Linked DNA regions of Homo sapiens: region 2 is linked to region 1. A link means that fine-mapping ties the variant in region 1 to the expression of a gene that starts in the linked region. Tissue or cell type: whole blood. Region 1 holds a variant in brackets; the other region holds the start of a gene. All regions are shown on one strand. Distances are from middle to middle.

Region 1 (8,275 bases):
ACTGGAAGGTGTATATCTAGCCCAAATTTATTCTTCTGCCAGCACTAAAAGGCTTTTACTTGGGGGTGGGGGAAATATACATATAATGGCAATGAAGTAACTTTCTCTATTTGTTTCACCCTTTTAGAAATTGAATTTCAGCAGATAAAACCACAGTTGTGTAGGCTTATTTACATTGATGAAGCAAAGTATTGGAATGAAGGTGAAGCATGTTTACATAGAAACGTATTTTTAAGCCCCAGATATTATTATTATTGTGTTCTCATAACACTTGCCCCTTTTCAGATTGTAGGCTGTCCTGTTTTTTGTTTTAGTTTTTTTGAGGCGAGGTCTCAGTCTGTGGCTCACGCTGGAGTACAGTGGTGCATTCACAGCTCACTGTAGCATCAGCCTCCTGGGCTCAAGCGATTCTCCTACCTCAGCCTCCTCGGTAGCTGGGACTACAGGTGGATGCCACCACACCGGGCTAATTTTTGTATTTTTTGTAGAGATGGGGTCTCACTGTGTTGCCTAGGCTAATCTCAATCTCCTGGACTCAAGCAATCTTCCTGTCTCGGTCTCCCAAACTGCTGGGATTACAGGCATGAGCCACCATGCCCAGCCCCTGGTTTTGTTTGTTTTTTGTTTTGAGACAGAGTTTCACTCTTGTTGCCCAGGCTGGAGTGCAATGGCACGATCTCGGCTCACTGCAACCTCTGCTTCCTGGGTTCAAGCAATTCTCCTGCCTCAGCATCCCGATTAGCTGAGATTATAGGCACCCACCACCACGCTAGGCTGATTTTGTATTTTTAGTAGAGACCAGGTTTCGCCATGTTGGTCAGGCTGGTCTCGAACTCCTGACCTCAGGTAATCTGCCTGCCTCGGCCTCCCAAAGTGCTGGGATTACACGCGTGAGCCACTGTGCCTGGCCCAGCTCCTGGTATTTTAAGTAATGTGTCAGTGTCCAATGTCTGTCCACCTCTCCGCCTCCACCAGTCTGATGTGGACCTTCAGTGTTTCATGTTAGGCTTTATAGGCAGTATCTTATAACATTACTGATTTCTTGCCATTGTAATAAATTGTTACCATATTTTATTATCTTTATTTATTTATTTATTTATTTATTTATTTATTTATTTATTTATTTTTGAGATGGAATTGCGCTCTGTCTCCCAGCTGGAGTACAGTGTATTTTGAGTAGAGACAGGGTTTCACCATGTTGGTCGGGCTGGTCTTGAACTCTTGACCTCAAATGATCCGCCTGTCTCGGCCTTCCAAAGTGCTGGGATTACAGGCGTGAGCCACCGCGTCTGGCCATTTTATCATCTTTAAACACGGCTTTCACTGTGTTATTACACTTCTCAGAAATTGTTACGCTTCCCCGTCAATTACAAATGTCATTTCTTATTTGTCACCTATTCATGTTGCTCATTGTTCCTCTATGTGGATACTTCATTACGTGAAAGATGTTCTTAGTTGTACTAAAATATATTATGCTCACATATGCATCTTTGTCTTCATTATATTGCTGTTGTCATTTAAAATAATTTTTTATAATTCAAAAACAACTGTGCTATGATGGATTTAGCAGTTAATATGTAAATGGAATAAATATAAGTATGTTGATCTACATAGAATATATGCATTAAGACATTGGAGGGATATGGAAACAAGTATATGATCCCTAAAAAGTTGGAAATAAGGTAGTTCACTGAGATTTATAGTTTATTCTAAGAAGGATTATGTTTAACTGTGTCCAGAATAAATGAAATATTTTTGGGTAAATTAACTGTTTATCAGTTATATTATAAGTTAACTGGATGTCAAGTACATACTTAAGGAATTTGAGAGACGGCACCAAAATGTAATTGAATTTAGTAATTAGATATCTAATCAGTTGTATTTACTCCTTTTTTGAGTTTAGAAGGAAAGAAGAAAGTTCTTTTTAGGCTCTAGATACAGAAAAGAGAGGTCCAAAGAGCCAGAAATTGACATTGCTTATTTAAACACTGTCGGAGGAATTAGCTGGGTGGGTGGTGTGTGCCTGTGGTCTCAGCTACTCCAGAGGGTGAACTGGATAAAAATTGATTGAGCGCGGAGATTGAGGCTGCAGTGAGCTGTGATCTCCTCACAGCACTCCATCCTGGGTGACAGAGCCAAACTCTTGTCTCAAAACAAAACAAAACAAAAAACCAAAACACTGAGGTAGAAGAAACCCTATTCTAGTATTCTTGGGCTTATTATTCCCCTGTTTTACGTCATTTGTGTTTATCAAGTAATATTTTGATTTAGCTTTCCTAAGGAAAAGTTTGTATTATTTGTTAATCCCCATGCTTTCTACACTAATTAACAGCTAATAATTATCATTTTAAAGTAATAAATTTGCATTCTGGTTTATATATCAGTAGCTATGAGCTTGATTACTAAGTTTGTCCCTAATAGGACATCTAGTCTCAGTATGCTTACAAAATCAGATATCTGAGTTTGTAATATTAAGAATTAGACTATATATATCTTTGTCATTTTATGAGAATAAAGGCCACCTATGATGGCTTTAGGTAGATAGCCAGCTGACAGTAAAAATGTATGTTTGGTTTGTATGAAGCAAGCTAAGGATTTCATGACTCCAGCAATTTACAATTTAACTCAAAATCTAGCTGAAAGCCTAGTTCAAGTTCTGTCTTTTCTATTAAATGTTTTCTGATTAGACTTACATGCAGTGACTACCCAGTATAAACCACCACCCTGGAACCTCTTTTCTTCCCGAAAATGCTTATTTTTCTCTAAATCACTTATCACCATCTGACATACACGTTTACTTGTTTATTGCCATTTCTACACTCACACAGGATTATGAGCTCTATAGGTAGGAGTTTTGTTAACACACTGCTTTGACTTTGTGGTTACCAGTGCTTGTCACATATCAAGTTCTTAAGAAGCATTCATTGAATGAAGGAATCTGTTTAATTCTGAATCTTTCTTTCCTCTAGGCTTCTTTGTTTATAAGTTGTAGTCAATATAGAATAATACAGGGTTTGTATTGTTTGATGTGTATAAATCTGATCTCCGTCTGCAGGAACTTTCTTGGAGCAAGGGCCTAACTTTGTACTATTATCTCCTCCACAGAATCTTAGTTGGCATTTGTGTTTGATCTCTTGATTTAGATAGACACGAGTTTGATTTTTGGTTTAGCTGTTTACTTACTTTTGTGACAGTAGGTAACTTTTCTGAACCTTGGTTTCTCTGTTTTAAGGATATACGAGATAGTGTTGGTTGAGGACTGTGATGGTTCATTTTATGTTGTAAGCATGACTGGGCCACAGGATACCCAGATCCTGGTAAGATATTATTTCTGACTGTGTCTGTGAGGGTGTTTCCGAAGAGATTAGCATTTGAGCTAGTAGACTGAGTAGGGAAGGACCACCCTTATCCATTTGGGCAGATATTGTCCATCCTTTGGGGGCCCACATAGAAAAAAAAAAAAAAAA[AG/G]GCAGACGAAGGATGAATTGGCTCTTTCTGAGCTGGAACATCCTTGTCTCCTGCTTTCAGATGTGGGTGCTCCTGGTTCTTCATTTTTCAGACTTGAACCAAGACACACCACTGGCTTTCCTGTTTCTCCAGCTTGTGGGCTGCAGATCATGGGATTTTGGCTTTCATAATCATATGAGATAATGAGCCTATATATATATATGTATACACACACACATATGCAAACACACAGAGAAACACACACAAATATGCTCACACTCTATTGGTCCTGTTTTTGTGGAGAACTCTAATACAAAGACATTTGAAGATTGAGAGAATGCACAAGATGGCCCCCGCAGGCCATTGTACTAGCCATCTCATTTTATATCACATCTAAGTATGCCTTGAATTTTTTTAGTTTTATGTACCTGGCCTTATTGTGCTCTTATCAGTATGACTTCTGGTTTTTGAATGGATAACATTGTTTTATAACTTGTGCTTCAGAAAATACCAGTGCTGTTTCTTTCCCCCCTTTCTTTTTTTGAAACAGTCTTGCTCTGTCACCCAGGGTGGAGTACAGTGGCGCGATCTTGGCTCACTGCAACCTCAGCCTCCTGGGTTCAAGTGATTCTTCTGCCTCACCCTCCCGAGTTGCTGGGATTCCAGGTGCGTGCCACCAAGCCTAGTTTTTGTATTTTTAGTAGAGGTGGGATTTCACCATGTTGGCCAGGATGGACTCAAACTCCTGACCTCAAGTGATCTGTCTGCCTTGGCCTCCCAGAAGTGTTAGGATTACAAGTGTGAGCCACTGTACCCGGCACCACTGTTGTTTCTAGGCTTAATTAATTTGTTGTGGCCAACAGGCTTTTCCTTGTGTTTCAGCTTTAGCACTACCTGTCCATCATAGCTGTCATTACAGCTTTGTTGACTTTACTGTCTCGCATACTCTTACCCAGTGCTGCTTTGGTCTTGCCCAAGGCGGCAGTTCTTTCCTTTTCTCTCTTCTCTACTTTTTGTTCAACATTATCTAATTTTCATATATAGATCTATGTATGTATATGTTAAATTTTTATATATATTAAATACTTTTCCCAGCTCTGCCTCTGTATTTATGACTAGATACGTAAACAATTGTTAATATACATCAATATATATTAATTACATTAATATTAACATTTGATATAGATTCTGTTCTTTCCTCAACTGTGCCTTGACAAACTTAGGAAAAAAAAAAAAGTTTTTTTTTTTTTTTTTTTTTGAGATGGAATCTCACTCTGTTGCCCAGGCTGGAGTCCAGTGGTGCGATCTTGGCTCACTGCAACCTCTGCCTTCCAGGTTCAAGCAGTTCTCCTGCCTCAGCCTCCCTAGTAGCTGGGACTACAGGAGCGCGCCACTAATTTTTGTATTTTTAGTAGAGACGGGGTTTCACCATGTTGGTCAGGCTGGTCTTGAACTCCAGACCTTGTGATTCTCCCTCTTCGGCCTCCCAAAGTGCTGGGAGTACAGGTGTGAGCCACCGTGCCTGGCCAGAAAATTTTTTAACAATTCAAATAAGTGTAAAAAGTTAAACCCTATTCTATCTTAATTTCTTGCATTTTGTATTTTACAATTTAGCAGCTTTAAAATCATCGTACTGAGTCCCTTCCACCTAAGTCACTTTCCATCTCTTGCGCTCATAATATACTGCAGGTTGGCATATACCTTTTAACTAAGAGTTTAGAGGGGGATTTTGTCTTTGTAGAAATCTGAATTTTCCAGAGGAAAAAAATTCTGAAAATTTAGAGTCCTTAGGTGAGATCCTCAGTAAACTGACATCCACTCATTTTAATAATATTCTTTTCTCTTTTATGTAAATTGATAACCAAGGCATGTGCAACATTTGAAAAGAGCTTTCCCAACATGAGAGAGAATAAACATGTAGGAAAAAAAGAATAGCCAGGAAAATACAAGGAACTGTTTTGAAAGCTTTGGGGGAAAATCCTCTTAATATACTCAGATGAGAAGATATTTCATCATTACAATGAATGAACTGGTTTAGATTCCTTAAAAGACATTCAAGAAGTGTGACTTTTGGCTTCCTCACCCAAGGTCAGCTTCAGCAGTTAGAAGGGAAAACTAAATGTTCTGAGCAAATGGTGAGAAATCCCCTAGGTTGGTGGAAGAAAGGCTGTTTTGAACTGGTGTGTGGAATAGAGAAGCTTTGTCCCAGGTCAAGAGAGAGGGCATCCTCTTGGCTATCAGAAGAAAAAATAGGAAAGGAACTATTGAAGCTCTTCACGCCTTTGAAGCAAAGGTGCCTAACTCGCGTACACTTGTAAAGTATCAGACCTTTGATATTTTGAGGAGTCAATTCAGGATAGTGCAGAGGCCCTTTCCTTCTGAGTGGATTTAAAAAATGAACTTTTGCTTCCCTACCTCTTACCCAGACAGTTCTCAGTGCTAATACGCTATAGTTGGTAAGAGATGCAGGAAAAACCAAACCAAATTGTTTTTTCCACTGTCGACTCAACACAACACTTCTGACACCAGATGTGTTGGGGTATTTTCTTACACACCTAGCAGATCTCCAGCAGACATGAGCTGGATATCCTCCAACTGAATTATTTTTTCACGCTGTCTACCTACAGCTAGCGTCAGATCCCACTGATTGAGGACTCAATCTCACAAGACTGCCTCCCACTTCAGATGACAATCGCAAGTAGTAGGTTGTCACCTATACTTCTGACTGAGCAGCTATAAAATTCACTGATCAGCTATAGACCAGCTCCTTCTCATGTTCAATTAGTTTGCTAGAGCAATTCACAAAGGTCAGAGAAACACTTTACTTATTATGTTTACCGATTTATTACAAAGAATATTTTAAAGGATACAAATGAATAGCCAGATGAAGATACATGGGATGGGATCTGGAAGGGTCCAGAGAACAGGAACTTTCATCCCTGTGGAGTTTGTGTGTGCCACCCACCTGGCACGTGGATGTGTTCTTGTACACCAGTCTGGAACCTCATTCAAACTCTATTTTTAGGGGGTTTTATGGAGACTTCATTACATAGGCATCATTGATTATATAATTGGCCATTGTTGATCAACTCAATTCAGCCCCTCTCCTCTCCCTGGAGGTCTGGGGTGGGGCTATGAACTTTCCAACTCTCTAAACACATGGTTGGTTCCCTTGGTAACAAGCACCATCCTGGGGCTATCTAGAAGCCCACCAAGATTGCCTCATTAGAACAAAAGAGTCTTCTGTCACCTAGGAAATTCCTAGGGATTTAGGAGCTCGGTGTCAGGAACCAGGAGTCAAAGGACAAATATTAGAACAAAAGATTCTCCTAGTGCCTGTATCTACAAGGATTTTAGAAGCTGTATGTCAGGAAATGGAGACAAAAAACAAATATATATTTCATGTTATCACAATAGTCGAAGAAGAGTCTCCATTTAGATGCTTTAACATGTGAAAAAATAGTGAAGCTACTTTCCCAAGGAATTGTTTTGAGAAAAGATGAGAGATTGTAGTTTTCTGCTGCCTGGAATATTCCACCTTAGGTATTTTCCACCTGTATGTCTTGAGCTCAATGGGGCTGACAGTGATTGTGGGCTGACATCGTCTATATACATTGCTTAAATGTATTTTCCTAGAAGAAAATGAGCACACAGACCAAATAAAACATTCAAAGGAAAGAAAAATAATATACTGGATTACAGATGCCATTAGTAGTAGAAATACTAGATTAGACAAATGATGAATATAAAATTATCCTAATAAATGTATTAAAAATATTAGAGGAAGATAATATGAAATAAAATCTAAAAGAAAAAATTACTCAATATCAAAAACATAATACAAAATGTAAGATATGCTGGGCATGGTGGTTCACTCCTGTAATCCCAGCACTTTGGAAAGCTGAGGTAGGCGAATCACTTGAAGCCAGGAGTTCAAGACCAGCCTGGCCAACATGGTGAAACACCATCTCTACTAAAAATATAACAATTAGTTGAGTCAGGCATGGTGGCTAATGCCTGTAATCCAAGCGCTTTGGGAGGCTGAGGCGGGTGGATCACCTGAGGTCAGGAGTTTGAAACCAGCCTGGCCAACATGGTGAAACCCTGTCTCTACTAAAACTACAAAAAAATTAGCTGGGTGTGGTGGCATGTGCCTGTAATCCCAGCTACCCAGGAGGCTGAGGCAGGAGAATTGCTTGAACCTGGAGGTGGAGGTTGCAGTGAGCCAAGATAGCACCACTGCATTCCAGCCTGGGCAACAGAGCGAGACTCTGTCGTGGAGAAAACAAGCAAACAAACAAAAAGATGAATAACAGAATTGATCTATTTGAAGAACAAAATTGTTAATTGGAAGATTAAAGAGAATATTTCACGGGGATAAAAGGACAAGGAAATAGCAAATATAAAAGAAAAATTGACAGCTATCAAATACAGAAATAAAGGTATTGACATCCAGAAGATAGGAATCTAAGAAGGGAGATAATTTTTTTTAAGTGGAGAATAAATACTTAAAGGGATAAAAGGGATAGTTTTCTAGAATTAAAGTGAGAGAGAAAAGAGAGAGGTGAGAAATTTCAGATTAAAAGGAGTTCAGAGTCAAGAGAGAAGAAAGAAACACAACATACGTTAAAGTTAAAATATAAGACTGCCAGAGATAAAGAAAATGCTAAAGACTTGCAGAGATGAGGGAAAAAAAAAAGTCACAAACAAATGAAGAAGAATTAGATTGGCATCACACTTTTTCAGCAGTAACTCTTGAATGTAAGCAGAAAATGTATTAGCTTTTTTTTTTTTTTTTTTTTTTTAGATGGAGTCTCGCTCTGTCGCC
Region 2 (8,186 bases), 190 kb after region 1:
AGACAGGAAGATTGCTTGAGGCCAGGAGTTCAAGACCAGCTTGGGCAACACAGCAAGACCCCATCTCCACAAAAAGTTTTTGAAAAAATTAGCTGGGCATGGTGGTGCAAACCTGTAGTCCCAGCTATTGTGGAGGGCTCAGGCAGGAGGATCCCTTGAGTGTGGGCAACAGAGTAAGACCCTGTCTCTTAAAGAAAAATTGACCAAAAAACCCTAATGAAACAAAGTTATTCAGAGTGCAAAGACTAGCTATTTTTTTCTTCAGTGGAAGTACAATTTTTCTTTTGACAAACTTCAATAACCAGATAATTAGAATCCATTACCTCTGTGGTACATATTAAAATGAATATTTCAAACTAGTCTCTTCCAGATCTTAAAAATTCACTGTGAGGAATTTCTAAGGCCCTTACTGCCAAACCTAACATAAAAGAATCAATACTGGAGCAGAGGTAATAAATGCTAACACAGAATCTACAGTTCAATATAGATGAGAACCATACTGAAATGAACATGATGAGTACAATATGGCAGCATTGCTAGAAAGAGGTCTTGATATCAAAATAACTCGTGATTCATAATGTATTTAAGTTACTGACCTAAGTAATTACCTAATTCTCTCAGCTTAGGCTTATTTATCTGTAAAACTGGAAAACACACCTTACTAAGTTCCGAGGATGCTCTGAGGACACATGATTACAAATCCATGTACTGTGATAAGTCCTTATACAATGAATTTGGACTACACTACGACGTCATTTGACAAAGCTTATTGCATTAGTAACTCTCTGAGTATAGAAAAAGAAAAAGCTTGTATAATACTAGTGGAATTTTCAAAGACATTCAAATTATAGCATTGAGAACTCTCATCTTGAGTCAACTAGATACTAAGTTAGGTGTTCACTGACATAAAAGAATGTCAGAATTTTCATAGCCGGGCAGGGTGGTGCATGCCTGTAATCCCAGCTACTCAGGAGGCTGAGGCAGAGAACTGCTTGAACCCGGGAGGTGGAGGCTGCAGTGAGCCCAGATCGCACCACTGCACTCTAGCCTGGGTGACAAAGCGAGACTCCGTCTCAAAAAAGAAAAAAAAAAAAAAAAAAAGTCTGAATTTTCAAAAACCTCATCTTATAAAACTGTGAGTGACAATTCTGAGTGCCAGAGGCCTGTAATTGGTACTCATTCAAGTAACCGTCAACGTCTGTTCTACTGTTACCTTCCAATAAACAACTATGCTGGAAATTAGATCTTTCAAGACTCAAATGGTTTAAGAATTCAAGGTGTCCGCCGGGCACGCTGGCTCACGCCTGTAATCCCAGCACTTTGGGAGGCCAGGCGGGGGGATCACGAGGTCAGGAGATCGAGACCATCCTGGCCAACATGGTGAAACCCCGTCTCTACTAAAAATACAAAAATTAGCTGGGCGTGGCGGCGCGTGCCTGAAATCCCAGCTACTCAGAAGGCTGAGGCAGAAGAATCGCTTAAACCAGGGAGTCGGAGGTTGCAGTGAGCTGAGATCGCGCCACTGCACTCTAGTCTGGTGACAGAGAGAGACTCCATCTCAAAAAAAAAAAAAAAAAAGAATTCAAGATGCCAAATTTCTGATACTTGCCTACATAAATTTTATGGCTGAAATACGGAGTTACGCTAGCCTGCTTAAAAAGACTCTGTCGAAACTCGCTCCGTTTTATGGAGGAGAATTTAAATGGTATTGCCACCATTTAACTAATTTTTCCTGAACTGGTAGTGATTCTGCAGTTCTATCTGCAACTGTCACCCAGTTCTAGTCTCCTTTTAAAACATCACACATTCGTGGGGCAGTTGGCGGGGGTTATTCTGCAGCCAAATAATGTGAAGCTAACTAGAACTGAACCAATGCTCATTTGGCAAGGACACCTGAACTCTGAAGCACTTCGTAAACAGCTGATTATTTCTAGTAATACTCCTGTGAAGTTTCAGTATTGAGCCATCCACTGTATTTCATTGCCAACTATATGTCGCCTTAAAAACAAGAAAAGTGCAAGACAGTTCCCTGGTTATTTGAGTCAGAGTCTCGCTCTGTCGCCCAGGTTGGAGTGCAGTGGCACAATCTCGGCCCACTGCAACCTCCACCTCCTGGGCTCAAGCGATCCTGCCACCTCAGCCTCCCGAGTAGCTGGGACCACAGGCGGGCGCCACCACGCCAGGCTATTTTTGTATTTTTTGTAGAGACCGGGTTTCGCCATGTTGCCCAGGCTGGTCTCGAACTTCTAAGCTCAAGTGATTCGCCCGCCTCGGCCTCCCAAAGTGCTGGGATTACAGGCGTGAGCCCCGGCGCCTGGCCAGTTCCCTGGTTAAAAAAAACTCGCAAATGTAGTCCAATTCGTCTTAAGTGTAAATACCTACCACCTGGGGCAAGACCCAACTTAAAAGGGAGGGGCGCCTCACAACAGTTAACCTGGCACCAGTGATTTGGTCCGAGAATCTTAGGCTTTTAAAGCTCAAGTCCAAACCTTTATTCTACAAATAGATTTTAAATTAAGGGCTTATGGTCTGGTTATAATCGCTAACTCTTACACTGTACTATGTACTTAGTACAGTTCTAAGTGCTTTACACCTATTTACTCCTTTAATCCTCCCAAAAAACCTGAAGCCGAGTGAAGCCAAGTAGTTTGCCCAAGGTAACACAGATATCAAGTGACGAGGTTAGAATTCAAATCCAAGCAGCATAGCTTCAAAACCTAGAGTCTTAAACCACCTGACTCTACTGCTCTTCTAGGACTCAGAGTTCTAATGTGAGAAAAGAATCCTCTATAGAGCTTTCTTTCAATTCCACCATCGCAAATGAATTGCAAACCTGTGACTCAAAAGTTCTTCCTGTGTGCAACCTTAAGTAATCTGACTTTTACATCCAAAATGGGTAACCTCTCTGGAAAACTAAAAGATGCAATGGCCAGTCTGAAAAGAACTCATGCTTCCCGTTGTTAGTGGGGTTCTGTTGTGTTGTTTTTTAATTGCAACACCTGAAACGCCTTAAAACACAAGTAAACAGGCTATCAGCCATTTTCCTGAGAACAGCAAACACCTATTACACTTTCATGATGCCTAAATTGATGAATCTGAGCTAAATACAGGAACGGCTGTCTTTTTCCCAGCTGTCTCTAATATATTTGGAAGACGGTAGACTCAGTTTATGCATGTGAATGTATGTGAGAAATGAGGGGGAAGTGGAGGGTGAGGAGGGGGAAGTGGAGGGTGAGGAGGGGGAAGTGAAGGGTGAGGAGGGGGAAGTGGAGGGTGAGGAGGCTATTCACTCCTCCACCTCTCCAAAGCGGGGCGACTCAGACTCAGACCCTGCTGCTAGAACTTAAAACCAGTATCACACCATTTCTGCCTTGGCCGGCTTCAGTGCCTCTCCAGGCTGTAGGGAGGTGGCTACGTGGCGCTAAGAGGACTTCCCCCAGCCAGAGAGGAGGTGGCAGCCCCAGGTGGTGGCATCCCCTCGCCCGGGGCCCCGCGACAGGGGGCGCCAGGACTTCCCGGGGATCCCCCAGGAGGGCAAAGTCTGAAGTGGCTAGCCTGGAGCCGCAGTTGGGCCAGGGCCTGCCTAGCAGCCCCTCACAGCCTCTGCGACCACTCCTGCCAAACCAACCTCCCAGCCTAAAGGGTTAGCCGACGCGCCGGGGACGGGGCCGGGCTCCTGAGGCAAAGGCACCCAAGACGAACGCTATATTCTGTGGGACACTCACCAGGTTGAGGGGTCCTTCCATTACTTCCATAGACCCCGGGGTAAGCGGCGGCCTTAGGAAGGGGAGTAGTGGCGCCGGGGAACATGGAGGGGACTGCAAGGGAGCTCGACGCAGCCGCGGAGACTGCGGCCCCTCTCTGCGCCCCAAGAGCCAGCGATAGGCGCTGAAGGAGCAACAACCTCACCACTTCCTCCTCCGGCGCCGCGCCGCGGGCCCGCCCCCTGCGCCACCGCCGAGGCCACGCACGGCGCCATGACGTCACACGCGCAAAAGGCTGGTTCAAGGTGGGAATGAGGACAGGCAGTGGGTGGGGCCCAGGGAAGGCGGGGCACCAGCTGATGTACGCTTGCGAGCGGTCAATCTTTCCTCTCGCGAGAAGCGTTAGTTTAGGTTCTTAAAGTCTACACTGAAGTCACGTGAGGAGGTACAGCCTTGCTGTTGAAGACTTGAAATGGCTGTCTTCTGCAATTAGCTTCTCACGTTTCCTTTTAGACTGACTTTTCCTTAAATCTGCTAATCGTTACACCGTTACTTGTGGTCCTGTCCACACCTTTATCATTGTACATGATTCATTTTTTCAAAAGGCCGATTTGAGCAATTCTAGACCATGCACTGGACTAACCCCCCTAGAGGTCAGCACACTCGAATGATTTAGGGCTCTGCCCTCAAGTTGCTCACAAACTGATAGGGAAACAATTTTGGTCTAGCCAAATATAATACTGCATTCATTTAACAATTATGTGCCAAACAAAAGCTAGGTTCGTTCTGTCATGGAATTCACTGACAAATAGTTGTGATTTATGCTGGAAAGGGAACACATAGGGAGCTGTGATAGAGTAACCAAGGTGGAGTTGGGTGGTAAAGGAAAGCCTTTCATGGGGGGCGTGATTTTTTTTGAGAAAGTGTCTTGCTGACGCAATCTCCACTCACTGCAACCTCCCTCTGCCCGCCCCCTGCCCCAGGCGATCCTCACACCTCAGTCTCTTAAGTAGCTAGGAACTACAAGTGCTCAGGCCAGGTTAATTTTTGTATTTTTTGTAGAGATGGGGTTTCGCCATGTTGCCTATGCTGATCTTGAACTGCTGAGCTCAAGTGAGCTCAATGATCCGCCCTCCTGGACCTCACAAACTGATGGGATTATAGGCATGAGCTACCGCACCTGGCTAAGGGCGTAATCTTTAAGATTAAACCTTAAAATGCCAGTTAAACAAAGACCCTTCTCGACAAAGGAAATGTCTTATGCCTCAACTCTAAAGGCGGGGAGGTCGGGTGGCGGGAGCTGCAGCATTTCAGAGAGATGCAAAAGAAGATACCAGAGAGATAGGAAACTTCCAAAACATAGGTGTCCTTGCAGTGCACAATGAAACATTTGAATTTTACTCAAAGTGCATTGGGAAATAAGTAAAGGATATTAAGCTAGAGAATAATCTGCTTTAATTTACAGTTTTGAAAAGATTAATTTCCCTGTAATGTGAAGAATAGATTGTGGAAGGCCTAAGGAAAAAGAACCAAGACAAGCTAGTTGATTGACTAATTATGGGCGCTCAGACTGGAATGGAAGTAGGGAAGATTGGGTCATGCATCCACTCATTACATAGTTATCATGTTTCTACCATGTGCCGGAAACCTTGGAAGAGAAGTAGATATATTCAAGATATATTTTTGGGCATCAGGTTGAGAGGAGTTAGTGATGGAATGGCAGTAAAGCATACAGAAAATGGAAGAATCAAATCTCGTATTTAAACAACCAAGTGGCCTAGCACACTGGCTCACCCCTGTAATCCCAGCTCTTTGGGAGGTCAAGGAGAGCAGATCACTTGAGGCCAGGAGTTTGAGACTGGTCTGGCCAACGTGGTGAAACTTCATCTCTACTAAAAGCACTAAAACGTAGCCAAGTGTGGTGGCGCGTGCCTGTAATCCCAGCTACTGGGGAGACTGAGGCAGGAGAATTGCTTGAACCTGGAAGGCAGAGGTTGCAGTGAGCTGAGACCAATCACACCACTGCATTCCAGCCTGGGTGACACAGAGAGACTCTGTCTCTAAAAATAAAAAAATAAAAAAGTAAACAACCAAGTGGACAAGATAGTGAGAGACAGGACTAGCTGGATTTCCTAGGCCAACTAAGAATTCCTAAACCTAGCTGGGGAAGGTGACCACACCCACATTTAAACACAGGGCTTGTAACTCAGTTCACACCCGACTAATCAGGTAGTAAAGAGGGCTCACTAAAATACAAATTAGGCTAGAAGCAGAAGGTAAAGAAATAGTCAAATCATATATCGCCTGAGAGCACAGGGGGAGGGACAATGATCAGGATATAAACCCAGGCATTCGAGCAGGGAGTGGCAACCCCCTTTGGGTCCCCTCCCATTGTATGGGAGCTCTGTTTTCACTCTATTAAATCTTGCAACTGCACACTCTTCTGGTCCATGTTTGTTACAGCTTGAGCTGAGCTTTCACTCACCGTCCACCACCGCTGTTTGCTGCCATCACAGACCCGCCGCTGACTTCCACCCCTCTGGATCCATCAGGGTGTCCACTGTGCTCCTGATCCAGCGAGGCGCCCATTGCTGCTCCCAATCGGGCTAGAGGCTCGCCATTGTTCCTGCAAGGCTAAGTGCCCAGGGTTTGTCCTAATCGAGCTGAACACTAGTTGCTGGGTTCCACGGTTCTCTTCTGTGACCCACGGCTTCTAATAGAGCTATAACACTCACTGCATGGCCCAAGGTTCCATTCCTTGGAATCCGTGAGGCCAAGAACCCCAGGTCAGAGAACAAAAGGCTTGCCGCCATCTTGGAAGTGGCCTGCCACCATCTTGGGAGCTCTAAGAACAAAGACCCCCTGGTAACAATAGGAAGGAGCTAATTTGTATGGAAAATGAAAAGTTCTATCTTGGGCACTGTATTAATTTCCTATGACTGCTGTAAGAAGTTACTACCCATTTAGTGGATTAAAACAACAGAAATTTGGAGGCTAGCAGTTCTGGAGGCTAGAAGACCAAAATAATTTTTTTTTTTTTTTGAGACGGAGTCTCGCTCTTTCACCCAGGCTGGAGTGCAGTGGCTCGATCTTGGCTCACTGCAGGCTCCACCCCCGGGGTTCACGCCATTCTCCTGCCTCAGCCTCCCACATAGCTGGGACTACAGGCGCCTGCCACCTCGCCTGGCTAATTTTTTGTATTTTTAGTAGAGACGGGGTTTCACCGTGTTAGCCAGGATGGTCTCGATCTCCTGACCTCGTGAATCACCCTCCTCGGCCTCCCAAAGTGCTGTGATTACAGGCGTGAGCCACCATGCCCGGCCAAGACCAAAATAATTTCATAGCGCCAAAACAAAGGTATACAGCAAGGCCTTGCCCCCTTCTTTTCCAGCCTCTGGAGCTACATTCTTTGCATTCCTTTGACTCACAGCCCCTTCTTCCATCTTCAAAGCCAGCAGCACTGCATCTTCAAAGCTCTTGCTGCTTTTGTCATGTCATTTCCTCTTAAAATCCTTCTGCCTCCCTCTAGTAAGGACCCTGTGAATACATTTGGTCCACAAAATAGTTAAAGATAGTCTTCCTATCTCAAGGTTAACTTAATCATACCTACAAAGTCCCTTTGCCATATGAGGTAACATTCTCAGCTTCCACAGATTAGGACCTGGGTATCTTTCGGACCATTATTGAGACTACCAGAGGCATTGTATCTAAAGCAAATCAATGACATACTCAAAATAATCCCAGAAGGGTTTAATAAACGGACTGTTTTACAAAGGTGTGGCCAGAGTTTAGGTATTTACATGAGAAAAGCAATAACTCCTAGGCTATAAAGAAAGAAATAGAAGGGGCTGGGTACAGTGTCTCACACCTGTAATCTCAGCACTTTTGGGAGGTGGAGGCAGAGGTGGGCGGATCACTTGAGGCCAGGAGTTCAAGCCCAGCCTGGCCAACATGGCGAAACCTCATCTCTATCCAAAATACAAAAATTAGCCAGGCATGGTGGCACATGCCTATAGTCCCAGCTACTCTGGAGGTTGAGGCACGACAATAACTTGAACCTGGGAGGCAGAGGTTGCAGTGAGCTGAGGCCGCACCACTGCACTCCATCCTGGGAGATAGAGCAAGACTCTGTCTCAAAAAAAAAAAAAAAAAAAAAAAAAAGAAAGAGAAATGAATAAGAGGGAAATCTGAAATGAGGAGAAAAATGTAGAATATAGTTTGAAGAAGCACTGACCTTCAATCAAGGACACTATCCTGAGGTGACCTTGCAGGGAGGATCCAGGGAAATCACCTTATTTCCTCTTCCCCTGACTTCCATTGTCCAAACCCAATCAAAAGCCAGAAGGCAAGGGAGCCCATTGATGTAATTCATAAAAATCAGCCTCCAAGGGCAGGGAGCAGGGTAGTAAGAAGTAGAGACCGGATCTGGAAAGAGTAATACAAAATATCTGGCACATACAAATGAAAGATTTCACATCTGTT

Evidence for each region. PIP is the estimated chance that this variant, and not a neighbour inherited with it, causes the effect.
Region 2: NRBF2 starts here. The variant in region 1 is fine-mapped to the expression of NRBF2 in whole blood (INTERVAL, PIP above 0.99).

The regions. Positions count from the first base shown.
Region 1 is chr10:63,319,233-63,327,507 of GRCh38, reverse strand. The region is part of intron 2 of JMJD1C (jumonji domain containing 1C); the gene reads left to right. Among named protein-coding and RNA genes, the nearest start is that of MIR1296, 50 kb to the left of the region's middle. The variant AG/G (reference allele first, on the strand shown) is at 3,468.
Region 2 is chr10:63,129,040-63,137,225 of GRCh38, reverse strand. NRBF2 (nuclear receptor binding factor 2) reads right to left here and starts at 3,898. Exons shown (of 4, transcript NM_030759.5): 1 at 3,726-3,898. The coding sequence starts at 3,755. RefSeq lists silencers at 3,352-3,621, 3,832-4,081.